2 separate regions of the Homo sapiens genome follow, and region 2 is linked to region 1. Evidence: fine-mapped expression QTL. Tissue or cell type: whole blood. Region 1 holds a variant in brackets; the other region holds the start of a gene. All regions are shown on one strand. Distances are from middle to middle.

Region 1 (8,185 bases):
TTGATTTTCAAATGTTAAACCAACTTTCCATACCTGAGGTAAATCCTATTTACTCACTATTTATAGTCCTTTTTATTTGTTGCTTACTTCAGTTTGCCTCTCTGTTTATGAGGAATATTGTATTGTAGTTTGTCAATCTTTATTTGGCTTTACTATTAAGATAGCTATAGAAGTTTAGAAGTGGTCCCTCTTGTTTTCTGAAACAGTTTGTGAATGAGTGGTAGGTAACATTTTCTTCTTTAAATAGTTGATAAAATTCAAAAGTGAGACCATTTGTACTTGGACTTTTCTTTGTGATATTTGTAATTATTACTTCAATTTCTTGTTATAGGTTTATTCAGATTTTATATATCTCTCTGAGTCAGTTTGATAATTTGTTTCTTTCTAGGAACAAATTTGTTAGTAGAAAGTTGTTCAAGTTATTCCTTAGAGTAATCCTTTCGATTCCTATAGGGTCAATAGTGATGTCCCCTTTCATTCTTTTTTTTTAATATTACATAAACTTTTTATTTATTCTTTAATGGTTTCAACTTTATTTTTAGATTCAGGGGATGCATATGCAGGTTTGTTACATGTGTATATCTCATGATGCTGAGGTTTAGGGTATGACTGATCCTGTCACCCAGGTGGTGAACATAGTACCTAACTGTTTTTCAACCCTTGTCCCTCTAGTACTTCCCAATGTCTATTATTGCCATTTTTACGTCCATGAGTACCCAGTGTTTAGCTCCCACTTACAAATGAGAGTATATGATATTTGATTTTCTGTTCCCATGTTAATTTGCTTTAGAATAATGGCCTCCAGCTGTATCCATGTTGCTAAATGTTGCTGCACCGGACATGATTTCATTCTTTTTAATGGCTATATCCGCTTTCATCCTTGATTTTGTTAATTTATGTCTTCTCTCCTATTTTATTGGCCAGTCTAACTATTTGTCATATTTGTTGATCTTTTCAAAGAACAAACTTTTGATATCATTGATTTTCTTTATACTTTTTCTGCTTTCTATTTTCTTGTTTTCCATTCTAGTCTTTGATATTTTATGTGTGTGTATATATATATATATATATATATATATATATTTTTTTTTTTTTTTTTTTTTTTTTTTTGAGACGGAGTTTCGCCCTTGTTGCCCAGGCTGGAGTACAGTGGCACTATCTCGGCTCACCACAACCTCCGCCTCCCAGATTCAAGCGATCTTCCTGCCTCAGCCTCCCGAGTAGCTGGGATTACAGGCATGCACCACCACACCCGGCTTATTTTGTATTTTTAGTAGAGATGGGGTTTCTGCATGTTGGTCAGGCTGGTCATGAACTCCCGACCTCGGGTGATCCGCCCACCTCGGCCTCCCAAAGTGCTGGGATTAAAGACGTGAGCCACTGTGCCCTACCTATTTATTTTTTGTAGTACTGTATTTTTTTTAAGAGACAGGATCTTATTCAGTCACCAGGCTGAAGTGCAGTGCCATGATTGATCATGGTTCACTGAAGCCTTGAAATGGGCTTAAGCCATCCCCCTACTCAGCCTCTTAAGTAGCTGGGACCACAGGTGTACACCACCAGGCCCAGCTCACTTTTTAAAATTATTTTTTGTAGAGACGGGGTCTTGCTTTGTTGCCCAGGCTGGTCTCAAACCTCCGGCTTCAAGCCATCCTCCTACCCCAACCTCCCAAAGTGCTGGGATTACAGGTGTGAGCCATCATACTCAACCTCTTTTATATTTTATAAAACATTCTGTGGCAGGCATGATGCCCCATGCCTGTCATCTCAGCACTTGGCAGAGGCTGAAAGAGGATGATCACTTGAGGCCAGGAGTTTGAGACCAGCTTGAGCAACATAGTGAGACTCTGTCTTTAAAGACAAAAGAAATTTTTTTAAGCTAGCCTCACTTGTTGGTATGTGCCTGTAGTCCCTGCTACTCAGGAGGCTGAGGCAGGAGGATCACTTAAGTCCAGAAATTCAAGGGTGCAGTAAGCTGTGATCACACTGCTACACTCCAATTGGGGTGACAGAATGAGACACAATCTCTAAAACATGAAAATAAGGACAGATGTGGTGGCTCATGCCTATAATCCCAGCACTTTGAGAGCCTGAGGCAGGTGGATCGCTTGAGCATGGGAGTTCGAGACCAGCCTGGGCAACATGGTGAAACCCCATCTAGGAAAAAAATACAAAAATTATCCAGACGTGATGACTCCTTCATGTCGTCCCAGCTCCTTGGGAGGCTGATTTGGGAAGATCATCTGAACTTGGTGAGGTCAAGACTGCAGCAAGCCAAGATCATGCCACTGCACTTTTAGCCTGAGTAAAAAAATGATACCCTGTCTCAACAATAAAAAAAAATTTTAATTAAAAAAGAGAGAAATTCTGCTTCCTTTGGGTTTAATTTACTCTTCTGTTTCTAGGTTTTTGTTTATTTGTTTGTTTTTTTGAGATGGAATCTTGCTCTGTCGCCCAGACTGGAGTGCAGTGACGCTGTCTTGGCTCACTGCAACCTCTGCCTCCTGGGTTCAAGCAATTCTCCTGCCTCAGCCTCCTGAGTAGCTGGGACTATACAGGCACATGCCACCACGCCCGGCTAATTTTTGTATTTTTAGTAGAGACAGGGTTTCACCATGTTGGCCAGGATGGTCTCGATCTCCTGACCTCGTGATCCACCCACCTCAGCCTCCCAAAGTGCTAGGATTACAGGTGTGAGTCACTGCGCCTGGCCCTGTTTCTAGTTTTTTTAAGATGTAACCATAGAATATTAATCTGATAGCTTTCTTCTTTTCTGATATAGGTATTTAAAACTATAAATTTCCCTCTAAGCTTTGCCTTATATCCATCCCATAAATTTTAGCATGTTGTATATTCAATAAAAATTATTAATGTATGGCAATTATGTGATCATTGAAGAACAAGAAAGGACTTGAATAAACAGAATTTTATGCAATATTCATAGGAAATAAACTTGATAGTATAAAGGCAATAATTTTTAAAAATTTTGCATGATATATTTATCTCTACTGTGTTAGAGAGACAGAGACTAACTTTTCATTTTCAAGGATTGATGAACAATCATCCATAAGTTCTTGAAGTTGAATAACAGGAAACTTTACTTGTTTTTCAAGCCATCTGGCTACTGTAAGAAGCTGCTAGTCACAAAATGCATGTCCAGTAAACGGCAGCCCTGTGGGCAACGCTTGGTTTGAGAGTGCAACAGGGTTACTCACTGCTGACAGTCCTGCCATGTTTACAGCCTGTGTAAAAATATCATCCTGGGCACTTCCTGTTCTGTGGTCTTCTTTGATGAATTCCAGGTATGGTACTGCCTTACTCAAGGTGGTGGGAGTTAGCATACTCCAGAGTTAAAAGCATTCACAAAATCATTAGCAATGAGGCATCTCACTTTCTGTGCTTTGATGAAATAATTTTCATATTTTTATTTTAACAAGAAAACATTTCCTGAGAGAATTCTTCCTCTTACAAAATCATTGAACCCTTCTCGTCTGGTTGCAGCATACATGGCTTCAGTAGATACATCAGTGTCACATCTGTGACCATATTGTAGCCCATCAGATCTTGCTATACTCGATGCTGCTTCTGATGTGCACAATAGATGGTAGCAGACAATTGAATAAGTAATGTGAGAAAAGGATACTTCAATTGCTTTGGCCCCCTCAGACTCAAAGAGGTCAGCAGCTTTGGACCAAAGAGACTGTACTTCACTTGATAATTCCAGTACAAGATATTCCTCTGGAATACCTATACATAGTTTGCTCACATTTGTCAAACTGGGAATCATGAATGGTTTAACAGGATCCTGTGCTGTGGTAGAATCCGTAGGGTCATGTTCAGCCAGTACACCCAAGACAATTGCTGCATCATCCACACATCTGGTTAAGATTCCTTGCACTTCCATCAAATCCTCCAGGGAAATGAGACCATGATGGGAAACTAAGCCATAGTTTGGTTTGAAACCAACAAGCCCACAGTAGGCAGCAGGATTTCTGGTCAGCCCTCCAGTATCTGATCCTAAAGCCGCATAGCATGTGAATGCCGATATGGCAACTGCACTCCCACCTGAGCTTCCTCCAGTTATCAGCCAGTCTGAATCTTCATTCTCAAAGT[G/A]GAGATTCTGCTTCCTCTTTTCTCTATATTGTTTTGAATAACTCCAGGGGTTTTTAACTGGTCCAAATACGCCTTCTGCATTTCCAGATCTCATAGCAAACTCATCTAAATTTGTTTTTCCATTAGTAGAGCTCCCTAATCCAACAATTTCGGAACTACTATAGCATTACCTTTCAGCATATTTGATGCACATGTAAGACAGTAATTTTTGGCTGGCTGTAGTGGCTCACGCCTGTAATCCCAGCCCTTTGAGAGGCCAAGGTGGGTGGATCACCTGAGCCCAGGAGTTTGAGACCAGCCTGGGTAACATGGCAGTACCCCAACTCTACAAAAAAATACAAAAATTAGCTGGGTGTGGTAGTGTGCACCTGTGTTCCCAGCTACTGGGGAGGTGAGAGGATAACTTGAGACCAAGAGGCCAAGGCTGCAGTAGGCCATGATTGTGCCACTGCACTCCAGCCTGGGTGACAGAGCAAGAACCTGTCTCAAACAAATAAATTTGTTAAGTATATATATAAATATCAATATCACACAATATTTATCAATATTAAATATATATACCATGTATATCAAATATATATCATATATATGTATGTACACACACATATAACAATTCTTAACATTCCTATAGGGATTTTTAAATGTAGCCTAACAAATATATCTTAAAGTTTATATGTAAAATAAAAGCCAAAGCAATTTGGAAGAATAACAAATCGGACCAAGAGGGTGGTGGTGTTGGCTATTTTCATGCCTGATAACAAGATAAATTATAAAGTTATACTAACAAAGGCACTGTTACTGATGTAGGGATGGACAAATGGATGAATGAAAAGGAACATGGAGATCAGCCAAAGACCTAAGCTTATGTATGGAAACTTGAAATATGATTGAGATGGCATTTTAGTTCATTTGAACATCATAAATCCCGAAATAGTACTACACTTGGTTTTCCATTTGTGAAAAAACAAATTCTGTTCCACCCACAAGGAAATAATTTTCTGATAGGTTTCAGGACCTACATGTGAAAAGCAACACATAACAACTTTTTGAAGTGAGTATTTGGTTTATAATTTTAATGTAAGGAAGGATTTCTTTAGACATACAAAGAACACATAAGAAAGAAAAACACTGGCAAATTGATTATATTAAAATTTAAGGCCAGGCATGGTGTCTTATGCCTGTAATCTCAGCACTTTGGGATGGGAGGCCAAGGTGGGCAGATCACTTGAGCTCAAGAGTTTGAGACCAGCCTGGGCAACATGACAAAACCCCATCTCTACAAAAAATACAAAAATTATCCAGGCATGGTGGCATGTGCCTTTAGTCCCAGCTATCTGGGGGCTGAGGCGAGAGGATTACTTGAGCTCAGGAGGTCAAGGCTACAATGAGCCATGATCATGCCACTGCACTCTAGCCTGGGTGACAGAGTGAGAACCTGTCTCAAAATGATAATAAATAAATAAATAAATAAATAAAACTTATCTGCATCAGAAGATACCACCTCCCCACCCAACAAAAACATGATTGAATTGTTTGGGATAATGTATTTTCAATTCATAGAAATAGACACAGAATTAGTAATACAGAAGGAACTCCATATATATATATGTATATAAAGAAGGCCAGGTGTAGTGGCCCACACGTGTAATCCCAGCACTTTGGGAGGCCAAGGTGGGAGGATCCTTGAGGCCAGGAGTTCCAGACCAGCCTTGGCAACATAATGAAGCCCTCTACAAAAATTACAAAAATTAGCCAGACCTGGTGGTGCACATCTGTAGTCCCAGCTACTCAGGAGGCTGAAGTGGGAGGATCACTTGAACCCAGGAGTTTGAGGCTGCAGTGATCTATGATTGCACCACTATTTTCCAGCCTGAACAACAGAACAAGACCCCATCTCTTTAAAAAAAAAAAAAAAGAACAACTAAATTGAAAATTGTGCAAAGGATAAAACAAGGAAACCTTGAATAGCCAAATTAAAAGATGTTCAGTGTCACTAGGAAATATCAAATGAAAGCAACATTAAGATAGTTAACATACATCAGATTATCAAATATTAGAGCATCTGTCAATGTTTTGTGCTGCCAACAATATGGTACTAGAGCCCTCCCATATACGGCTGGTAGTACTGTTAATTGTTACAACTACTTTGGAGAAAATTATCTAATATTTGGTAAAGCTGAAAGTAATTTTATTCCTCTCTCTCTCTCTCTCTATATATATATATATATACACACCCCGGGGAAACTCAGGTGTGTACAGGGAATCATGAACAATAACTATTTATTACGGTACTCTTGGAATAGCAAAAATTTGAAAAAAACCAAATGTCTTAATATAAAGACGATAAATAAATTTTGGTATGTTCATACGGTGGAATAGTATGCACCTCTTAAAATGTATTAACTAGAGCTACATAGATAAGTATAGATAAATTTCTTAAGCTAATGTTGGATGTGAAAAGTAACATATAAATAACTTTTTAAAAAAATAAATGAGTTATATGAAACAGTTTATATTATTTTTTATGGATTTATAAATGTGTAGTAATAATATAAAAATATTTTTTGAAATGATTAATACCAAAGCCTAGATAATGGTTTCCTCTGGGGAAGAAAGGAACAATATGATTTGGGCCTCAGTGATACCTGTACAGTTAAGTAAAACATTGGAGATAATGCAGGTAAGTGAAATAAACATGGAACTACGTGTAGATTTATTCATACTGAGTGGTGGTCCTCTGCAGGTTTGTTCATGTTATTTTCAGTATTTTATTATAGGTTTGAAATATTTCATAATTTAAAAGAAAAAAGGAAATATTAATGACTTTTCAAAACTTAGAAAATTAGTATAATGGAAATATTCATTAGGAAATATTACAGTTAAGGATGTTCATGTGGTTAACTAAATGAAAATTTTCTATAGTGGATTTCATTTGGATAGTGATAAAAGTATTTTATTTTATTCTTAGTCTAAATAAGAGATTTATAATAGATTGTTGTGTTAAATGCAATTTCGGGCCTAGGTTTTGTTAATAAAATAAATCATGTTTAATTGCAATAAAGCATGTGTTGAAAAGGTGATTCTTTTTATATGCCCTTCTGATCCCAAGTATGGCAGAAGGATATAAAGGTCACCAAGAATAATTTGGAGGTTGCCAAGGACTTATTTAAAAGTGTTTTCAAGTCCGACCGAGAACTCTGACATTTACAAATAGATAAGATGTGAATATTTAAAATCATATTTTCTTTTCAGGATTGATTTTAAAGAAGCTACTTCACACAGGAAACTCCTTAAAGGTACAACTATGTTTACTTTCCATGACTTTAAAAATACTGAGTAGAACATACATCCCACCTGTTAACACTTTTCCTACCTAAGCTTTTTCCTAAAGATCTCTGAATTGTCTTCAGTTTATTTAATTGAAGTGAGTTCCCTTAAAATGTAGCAAGAGGCTGGGTGCAGTGGCTCACGCCTGTAATCTCTGCACTTTGGGAGGCTGAGGTGGGTGGACCACTTGAAGCCAGGAGTTTGAGACCAGCCTGGCCAACATAGTGAAACCCTGTCTCTACTAAAAATACAAAAATTAGCCGGGCGTGGTGGCACGTGCCTGTACTCACAGCTACTTGGGCAGCTGAAGCAGGAGAATTGCTTGAACCCTGGAGGCAGAGGTTGCAGTGAGCTGAGATCAAGCCGATGCACTCCAGCCTGGGCGACAGAGTGAGACTGTATCTTAAAAACAAAAACAAAAACAAAAAAAAAACGTAGCAAGAGTTTGTTTGACAAACCATTCTAGGTTGACTGGGGACATTGAAAAAACTGTTGTACTTTGCCACTCAATGGACTCATTCACCAGCAATCTTTCCTCTTTATGGTCCCCAGAAGGAAAACATTGTTTAGTCATTCAACAGATTATTCTTCATTCCACCATAGCCACTATTAGATGTAGAGGGAAGTAGGGGAGATACACATATATATATAAACATTTTTGTTTCTTTTTCATTATGCCATTGTACTGTAGTAAGAGAAGCTGCCCATTCCGAAAATATCTTGCTGTAGGTTAGGTAAAGTAACA
Region 2 (8,185 bases), 43 kb before region 1:
CTGATCTTTTTACTATTGCTATAATATTGCCTTTTCCAGAATGTCATATAACTAGAATCATACAGTATGTAGCATTTTCAGACTGGCTTCTTTCACTTAGCAATATGCATTTAAGTGTCATACATGTCTTTTTGTGGCTCAAGAACTCATTTCTTTTTATTGCTGAATAATATTCCATTGTATGGATGTACCACAGTATGTTTATTCATTTAACTACTGAAAGATATCTTGGTTGCTTCTAGTTTTTGGAGTTAGGAATAAAATTGCTATAAACATTTGTGTGTAGGCCAGGTGTGGTGGTTCATGCCTGTAATCTGTAACCCCAACACTTTGGGAGGCTGAGGTAGGGGGATCCCTTGAGGCCAGGAGTTAAAGACCAGCCTGGGCAAAATAGTGAGACCTTGTCTCTACTAAATTTTTTTTTTTTTTTTTTTTTTTTTTTTTTGTGAGATGGAGTTTCGCTCTTGTTGCCCAGGCTGGAGTGCAATGGCACGATCTCAGTTCACCGCAACCTCCGCCTCCCAGGTTCAAGTGATTCTCCTGCCTCAGACTCCCGAGTAGCTGGGGTTATGGGCACGCGCCACCACTCCTGGCTAATTTTGTATTTTTAATAGAGAAGGGGTTTCTCCATATTGGTCAGGCTGGTCTTGAAATCCTGGCCTCAGGTAATCCACCTGCCTCGGCCTCCCAAAGTGCTGGGATTACAGGAGTGAGCCACCACGCCTGGCCATCTACTAAATTTTTTTTTAATTAGCTGGGCTTTTTGGCACCTGCCTGTGTTACCAACTGCATGGGAGGCTGAGGTGAGAGGATTGCTTGAGTCCAGGAAGTTAAGGCTAAAGTGAGCTGTGACTGCACCACTGCATTCCAGCCTGGATGACAGAGCAAGACCCAGTCACTAAAAGAAAAAAAATCTAGTTCTCACAAGCAATATATATATATATATATATATATATATATTTTTTTTTTTTTTTTTTTTTTTTTTTTTTTTTGAGACAGAGTCTCACTCTGTCAACCAGGCTGGAGTTCAGTGGTGCAATCTTGGCTTACTGCAACCTCCGCCTCCTGGGTTTAAGCAATTCTCCTGCCTCAGTCTCCTGAGTGGCTGGGATTACAGGCGTGCCCCACCACGCCTGGCTAATTTTTTTGTATTTTTAGTAGAGACGGGGTTTCACCATGTTGGTCAGGCTGGTCTTGAACTCTCCTAACCTTGTGATCCGCCTGCCTCGGCCTCCCAAAGTGCTGGGATTACAGGCATGAGCCACCGTGCCTGGCCCTCACAAGCAATATTTCAAAGGTATATTTCTGGGTTTTATTTCCATGATAATTATGTCTGCTGTGGGGAAGACTTATCTTTCAAAGAATTTTAATATTTAAATCAATGGGAAGAGAAAAACCAGGCAGTGGGATGGGTGTGCCATATGTAAATTACATTATACTAGTTTGTTTTGCAATGGTGTTTTCATTTTTTCTCAGGTATACCAGCCATATAATTATTTTTAACGATATGTTACATTTTTATTCTCTAAAATTATGTCACTCATTTGCCAAACATTTACTGAGTACTTGCGCAAGAGAAAGGAAGGGACAGTGACATTCGTTCTTCTATTCGACACAGATTTATTGAGCCTATCTTGCAAAGAGCACTTTGCAAGAAGACTGGGATACAACTTTAGACAATCTATACAGTCTCTGTCCTCAGGGAGTTTACAGTCTCATGAAAGAGAGAATCTGTAAACAGTTACACAAATTACTGTATTTAAATTCTATGAAGGAAAGGAATGTTATGAGATGTGTCATTATAGATGTAACTTTCAATACTTTTCTCACCTAATTATCACAATCACTGATGTAGTTTACAAATGAGGAAAATCAGGCTGAGACTGAACTACATGCCAAGGGCCCGAGAGCAAGTAAGTCCTTGCAAGTGAAAAACAGAATGTCTAATTTAGGTCTATGTAATTCTAAAGATCATGCTTGAAAACATTGTATTATTGCCTAAATTTCACGAAACTGTGAGGGACAGACCTTATTTTGATTTTATTAATAAGAAAACTGATGCTGAGAGGAACTAGAACTAAAATCTCTTGAACAATCCCCTTATTTTTCTATTATGTTATAAGCTTCCTCAAAACATGTATGGCTTGTAAGTTTGATGATACAAACAAACCCTACATGTAGAAACTGAATAAATTTTTTGTACTTTAAAAAATATAGGATTGTTGTTGAAACAAACTACCATTAAGCAAAGCACTATATTTTAACATAATTTTGGCAAATGTCTTACATCTCTCTTCTTTGCTGATTTTGTTATTTTTCTATGTTAATCACATATTTCATTGGACAAGTCTATTGCTATGGGTGAGAACATAGAAGGAAACAGTTCAAACAAGCAAACTCACTCTTTATCAAATTATTTTGTGGAGGAAATGTTCCTGGCCAGGCGCAGTGGCCTCACGCCTGTAATCCCAGCAGTTTGGTAGGCTGAGGCGGGCGGATCACTTGAGTCTAGGAGTTTTAGACCAGTTTGGGCAAAATGGCGAAACCCCGTCTCTACAAAAAACACAAAAATTAGCTGGATGTGGTGGCGCGCACCTGTGGTCCCAGCTACTCGGTAGGCTGAGGTGGGAGCATCACCTGAGCCTGGGAGTTCGAGGCTTCAGTGAGCTGAGATCACACCACTGCACTTCTGCCTGGGACACAGAGACCCTGTCTGGAAAGAAAAGGAAAAAGGAAAAAAAAAAAAAGGGTTCCAATAAAAATTTCAATTTATGTCATTCAGAATTTCACGGATTTTTTTCAGCTATTGCAGATTCTTCAGATGACTCCATCAATGTAATAAGAACCTTGAATTCTTCTTTGCAGAGGAAAAACTGACAATATATTCATCTTTATGTGGGGTGCAGATGGGGAAAAGATTTTTAAAAGCACAATAGAAAAGGAAAGCAAGATTACTTTTATTTAAAAAACCTAGATACCTCTGCTTAAGCCTTTCTGTTGTCAAGTTGTTTGCAGCAAAAAACAGGGATATTGCAAATAGAAAAAATATGAAAGAAATCACATACATAGTGCAGGAAATATTATTAGTAATAGATTTAGGACAGAATAAATTGCCCAACTGTAACTTCGTTTATCTTTCTGCTAGAGGATCTGGTGGCCACAACAACTTATGCACATTTTCAAAGATAAATCATGGACATATTTAATAAAGATTACTTCTCTTTGCTTATTACTATCATTTGGCTTACAATGGAGCACGCAGTAACTACCTTCCTTGCCTTTCTTGAGATTCTCCTTTGGCTGCTTACACAGGAAACCAAGGCGGGGAGTGCCACGGGTGATCTCATGCTGGCATGACGTCAAGAACTCTTGACGTCAGAAGGCGGTTGCCACGGACACCGTTCGCCACCGACGGCAGAGTCGTGAAACCCCATCACTACCACACTCGTCTCCGTTTCGGCCTCTGCAGGGTGTAAGCTGCTAAAGAAGCTTCAACCTTAAGGGGGCCTCAGGGAGAGAGTTGTGCTCCTGCCGCCGAGAGCTCCACCTTCGTGGCTCTGGGTCCGGGGCCCCGGCCTGTGGCGGCGAGCGGCGGCCGCTGGAGACGAGCGGCGGCGGCAGGCGGCCAGCCCGGGTCTGCCTCGCTCCGTGCAGGGCCGGGAGAGGGATCCGCCATATTGGAGCTGGGGCCGAAGGTGCCTTGGAGCCGCGGCGCGAGGCGGGTGGAGGTGGCGGCCCTGGCCTGGATCGGGAAGGAGTCGGCTCTGCCCTGGCCCGCAAGGCTGGGGAGCTAATGAGCCTCTCTGGCTAGTCTCCTCCCCGTCCACTCCCTCCACTTTCTGCCGCCGGGACCCGGCTGGGAGCCGGCTGTGGCAGTGGCAGTGGCAGTGGCAGCGACAGGATGTTCTCCAAGAAGCCGCACGGGGACGTGAAGAAGTCCACCCAGAAGGTGCTAGACACCAAGAAGGACGCACTGACTCGCCTCAAGCACCTGCGCATCGTCATCGGTGAGGAGCGAGGGGTGGCAGCGCCGAGGCCTGGGTTGCCCGGCCTTCCCTCTCCTGGGAGCCCCTGCGGACTCTCTCTCGGGACCTGGCGCGGTGCAGGAGAGGGCAAATCGTAGCCTCTGCGGAGACGCGGGAGGGTGAATAATTCGGAGAAGCGAAAACTTGGCAGTTGGCAGCACTGATTACTGTTAACACAGTAATCTAATTTTGAGTTAATAGTCTGAACTTATTTTTTAAAATTGGTATTACTCTAAAAACTTAGATCTTTAAGACTTTGTGGGGAGACCTGGCGTTGTGGATAATGGTGTTTATAGGATATGTTTGCCAGATGACTACTGCCAACCCCACCCAAGTAAAAAGAAAAATAAAATCCTCTCTCAGACAATATAAACCTTAATCTTTCAAGTTTCTTGGCAGATGAAGACAAGGAGGTAGCAGTTACACCTCTTTGGGAAGTGGGCGGTTCCCAAAAAGCTGTGGGAAGGAGCCCCGCCCTTTTGTTAATGCACCTTGTTCATCACTAGTCATTTAGAGGGAGAACTATTATAGGTAGTTTAACTCATCCTTTGCTTCTCGAGAATTGTATATAATTCTATTTTTAATTAAAAATATTTTTTTTATCGTCTGCCCTTAAGTTCTGTTTTGCTGGTAGACCAAACAGTGCTCTAAGTTTTGAATATAATGTTAATCGACTCTTTTGAATACTTAGTCATTTGGTAGGCTGATAAAGGCTGTAATAATACTTATGGAACATCTGGTCCAGTAGTTGGATTTTTTAGATGAAGACATTTGAGATGAAAAGGAAAATTATTTCGCCTGTGTTGATACTTAGAGTTAATGGTGGAACTGGCTGAAGAAGATGCATTCATCCAGATGCCTGAATCCTAGTTCAGAGTTTATCTCGAGCTGTCCTCCTGATGCGTATTTGTTTTGGAAAGTGATGTTTATTTAGTGAAAAAAGTAAGTCCCTTATTTGAGGTACATGTTTCTCTAGTCTATTGTTTACTCATACCACCAGGATACCACCAATATTACCCAACATTTCTATGATGCTTTACTGTTTACAGTGATTTCACGTAAATTATGATAATCCTTGCAATAACTCTATAGGTAGATGATATTATTCTCCATTTTTTACCAACAAAAAAGCTGAAGTTTGGGAACATCGAGTAGTCAGCCAGCTACCAGGAGGCTGAGTCAGAATTGGAACCCAGATTTTGTGTCTCTAGTTTGTTTTTTTACTCTTTCTACATTTATGACAGCTAATCTTTGTCACAAGTAAATTGTATTTATTCCAGTGGAGTAGTAAGAAAGCAGTTAATCCAGTTTAGCGCTATAAAAAGCTCAGTTTTCAAGAAAATGTAAAGCTTCTAAATATAGTGGAGATTGTGATCTTTTTGTTTTCATTCTTCTTGAGAGTTAAGCCATTGAAATAAAGATTTAGCCGAGAATAGGACACAGTAAGTTAATGTGTGAATGCAGGCGAGGGATTCACAGGTAATGGCAGTTTGAAATTGAACACTTAATGGAGCTTGACACCTACTTGGGATAAGCTGTAGGTTAGGTAATGACACAGCTATAAAGTTGAGTTCCAATAAAGTATCGAGATTTCCTAAATTAAAGGCCATACTTTATTTATAGACTGGTTAAGGAATTATTTATATATACTTTTTTGGCATAGAGTTTTTTTCCATCTGGCAGACATGGAAAATTAAAAGGTAAATTAAGAGAGAGGTCACACATATAAGGCATTTTGTAGGACTTAGCTTGCTTGGTTTGAAAACAAAACAAAACAAAAACAAGTCTTTTATTGTTGTCGTTATTTTGTTTGAAATACAGTTAATGTAATTTCTAAGAAAATGAATGAGAGAAAGTAGAATGACAAAAACTAGTGTCTTTTAGAGGTCTGCCAATCAGGTATTTGATTTTGCAGATGGAAAATCCTTTCTGGAAGTAGGTGCGGGCTTTAAATAAGGTAAACACAATGAGGAAACTAGTTTGCAGAGTAATTGGGCATTGCCAGTTACACAGGCTTTTGATTTTTGTTTGGTCCCATAGTTCATAGTTCATATGGGACCAAACAGAACTGCCATTCACTCAGGGTACTTATGGGAGGATTCAGTGCATCTATATGTATGAGAACATAATCATAATTTAAACATCCGCTGTAAACTTTTTTCCTGGCATGTGTTCCCACTGTAGGACAATCCAAGTTAAATTTATAGAACTTGACTCTGAAGATTTAGATTTAAATCTGGTATGTTTATTGATACTGTTGCATAATTGATTTGTAAAAACTAGAAGTCAGGGTTTTCTTAAAACAGAAAAAAAAGCCTTGTCTGATTTCTAAAGCTGTTATCCTTTCTACCTACCCCCTCCCCCCCATTTTACAACTAATGGTAATGATATTATAAATTAGCACATGTAAATTGGCTAACATAATGCTTGGCATATAGTGGGTATTGACTTAGTGTTAGTTTTGTTCTACTTTACAGCTAACAGTTCAGTCCTCTTGATATAAAAATAAAAAGTGCTTATTTAGCTAAAAATATTTATTGTTAAATAATTCTGACAGCTTTATTGAGGTATAATTGGCACACAATAAACTGCACATATTTAAAGTACATAATTGAATAATTTTTACATATGTATATCTCCTGAAACCATCATAACAAATATTTAAAATATCCAATCAAGATAACAAATATAGACAGTGACAATCAGGATAATATATGTATAATCAGCTGGGTGCGGTAGCTCATGCCTGTAATCCCAGGACTTGGGGAGGCCGAGGTGGGCGGATCACGAGGTCAGGAATTCAAGACCAGCCTGGCCAACAGAGTGAAACCGGGTCTCTACTCTACTGAAAATACAAAAATTAGCCAGGCATGGTGGCGTGCACCTGTAGTCCCAGCTACTCAGGAGGCTGAGGCAGGAGAATCGCGTGAACCTGGGAGGCAGAGGTTGTGGTGAGTCGAGATCACGCTACTGCACTCCAGCCTGGGCAACAGAGCGAGACTCCGTTTCAGGAAAAAAAAAAAAAAAAGAAAAAGAAAAAATATATATATGTATGTATGTATAACCTCCCAAAGTTTTCTCATGCCCCTTTGTAATCTCTTTCTCCCACCTCAGTTGTACCCTCCCACCTTTCCTGAGCAACCACTAATCTGCTGTCACCCTAGATTAGTTTGCATTATCTAGAGTTTTATATAAATGGGATTATACAGCATAAAAATGGAATTATGCAGTACGGTCATTTTATGTTTGATTTCTTTTTTTTTTTTTTTTGACACGGAGTCTCACTCTGTCACCCAGGCTGGAATGCAGTGGCGCGATCTCGGCTCACTGCAACCTCCGCCTCCCGGGTTCAAGCAATCCCCCTGCCTCAGCCTCTTGAGTAGCTGGGATTACAGGCGCACGCCACCAAGCCTGGCTAATTTTTTCTTTTTTTTTTTTCTTTTGTATTTTAGTAGAGACAGGGTTTCACTGTGTTGCCCAGGCTGGTTTCGAACTCCTGAGCTCAGGCAGTCCCCCCGCCTCAGCCTCCTAAAGTGCTGGGATTACAGGCATGAGCCACGGCGCCCCGCCTTTTTTTTTTGTATTCCTAATAGAGATGGGGTTTCACCATGTTGGTCAGGCTGGTCTTGAACTCGCGACCTCGTGATCCGCCTGCCTCAGCCTCCCAAAGTGCTGGGATTACAGGCGTGAGCCACCACACCTGGCCTTGGTTTCTTTTTCTCAGCCTCATTATTTTGAAATTAATCTGTATCCTGGTATGTTAATAGTTCATTGCTTTTTTTTCTTGTGACAGGGTCTTCTGTCACTCTGGCTGGAGTACCGTGTTGCAAACGTGGCTCATTGCAGCCTTGACCTTTCAGGGTCCAGCGATCCTCCTTCCTCTACCTCCCTAGTAGCTGGGACATGCACCACCGTGTATGGCCAATTAAAAAAAATTTTTTTTTGTAGAGATGGGGTCTCATGTTGCCCAGGCTGGTTGCAAGCTCCTGGACTCAAGCAATCCTCCCATCTCAGCCTCCCAAAGTATTCTGGGATTACAGGTGTGAGCCACTGTACCTAACTGTTAATCTCTTTTTATTTCTGAATAGTTACTCACTATTTATTTATTTATTTATTTATTTATTTATTTATTTATTTATTTTTGAGATGGAGTCTCACTC

The links. PIP is the estimated chance that this variant, and not a neighbour inherited with it, causes the effect.
Region 2: RALGAPA1 starts here. The variant in region 1 is fine-mapped to the expression of RALGAPA1 in whole blood (INTERVAL, PIP 0.95).

Annotation. Positions count from the first base shown.
Region 1 is chr14:35,761,934-35,770,118 of GRCh38, reverse strand. It overlaps RALGAPA1 (Ral GTPase activating protein catalytic subunit alpha 1), which reads left to right. Exons shown (of 42, transcript NM_001346249.2): 5 at 7,366-7,409. SNORA101B (small nucleolar RNA, H/ACA box 101B) reads left to right here and starts at 7,188; the gene lies at 7,188-7,319. It also overlaps the pseudogene QRSL1P3. The variant G/A (reference allele first, on the strand shown) is at 4,114.
Region 2 is chr14:35,804,552-35,812,736 of GRCh38, reverse strand. It overlaps RALGAPA1 (Ral GTPase activating protein catalytic subunit alpha 1), which reads left to right and starts at 3,442. Exons shown (of 42, transcript NM_001346249.2): 1 at 3,442-4,007. The coding sequence starts at 3,902. RefSeq lists enhancers at 3,296-3,395, 3,232-3,792 and a silencer at 3,476-3,715.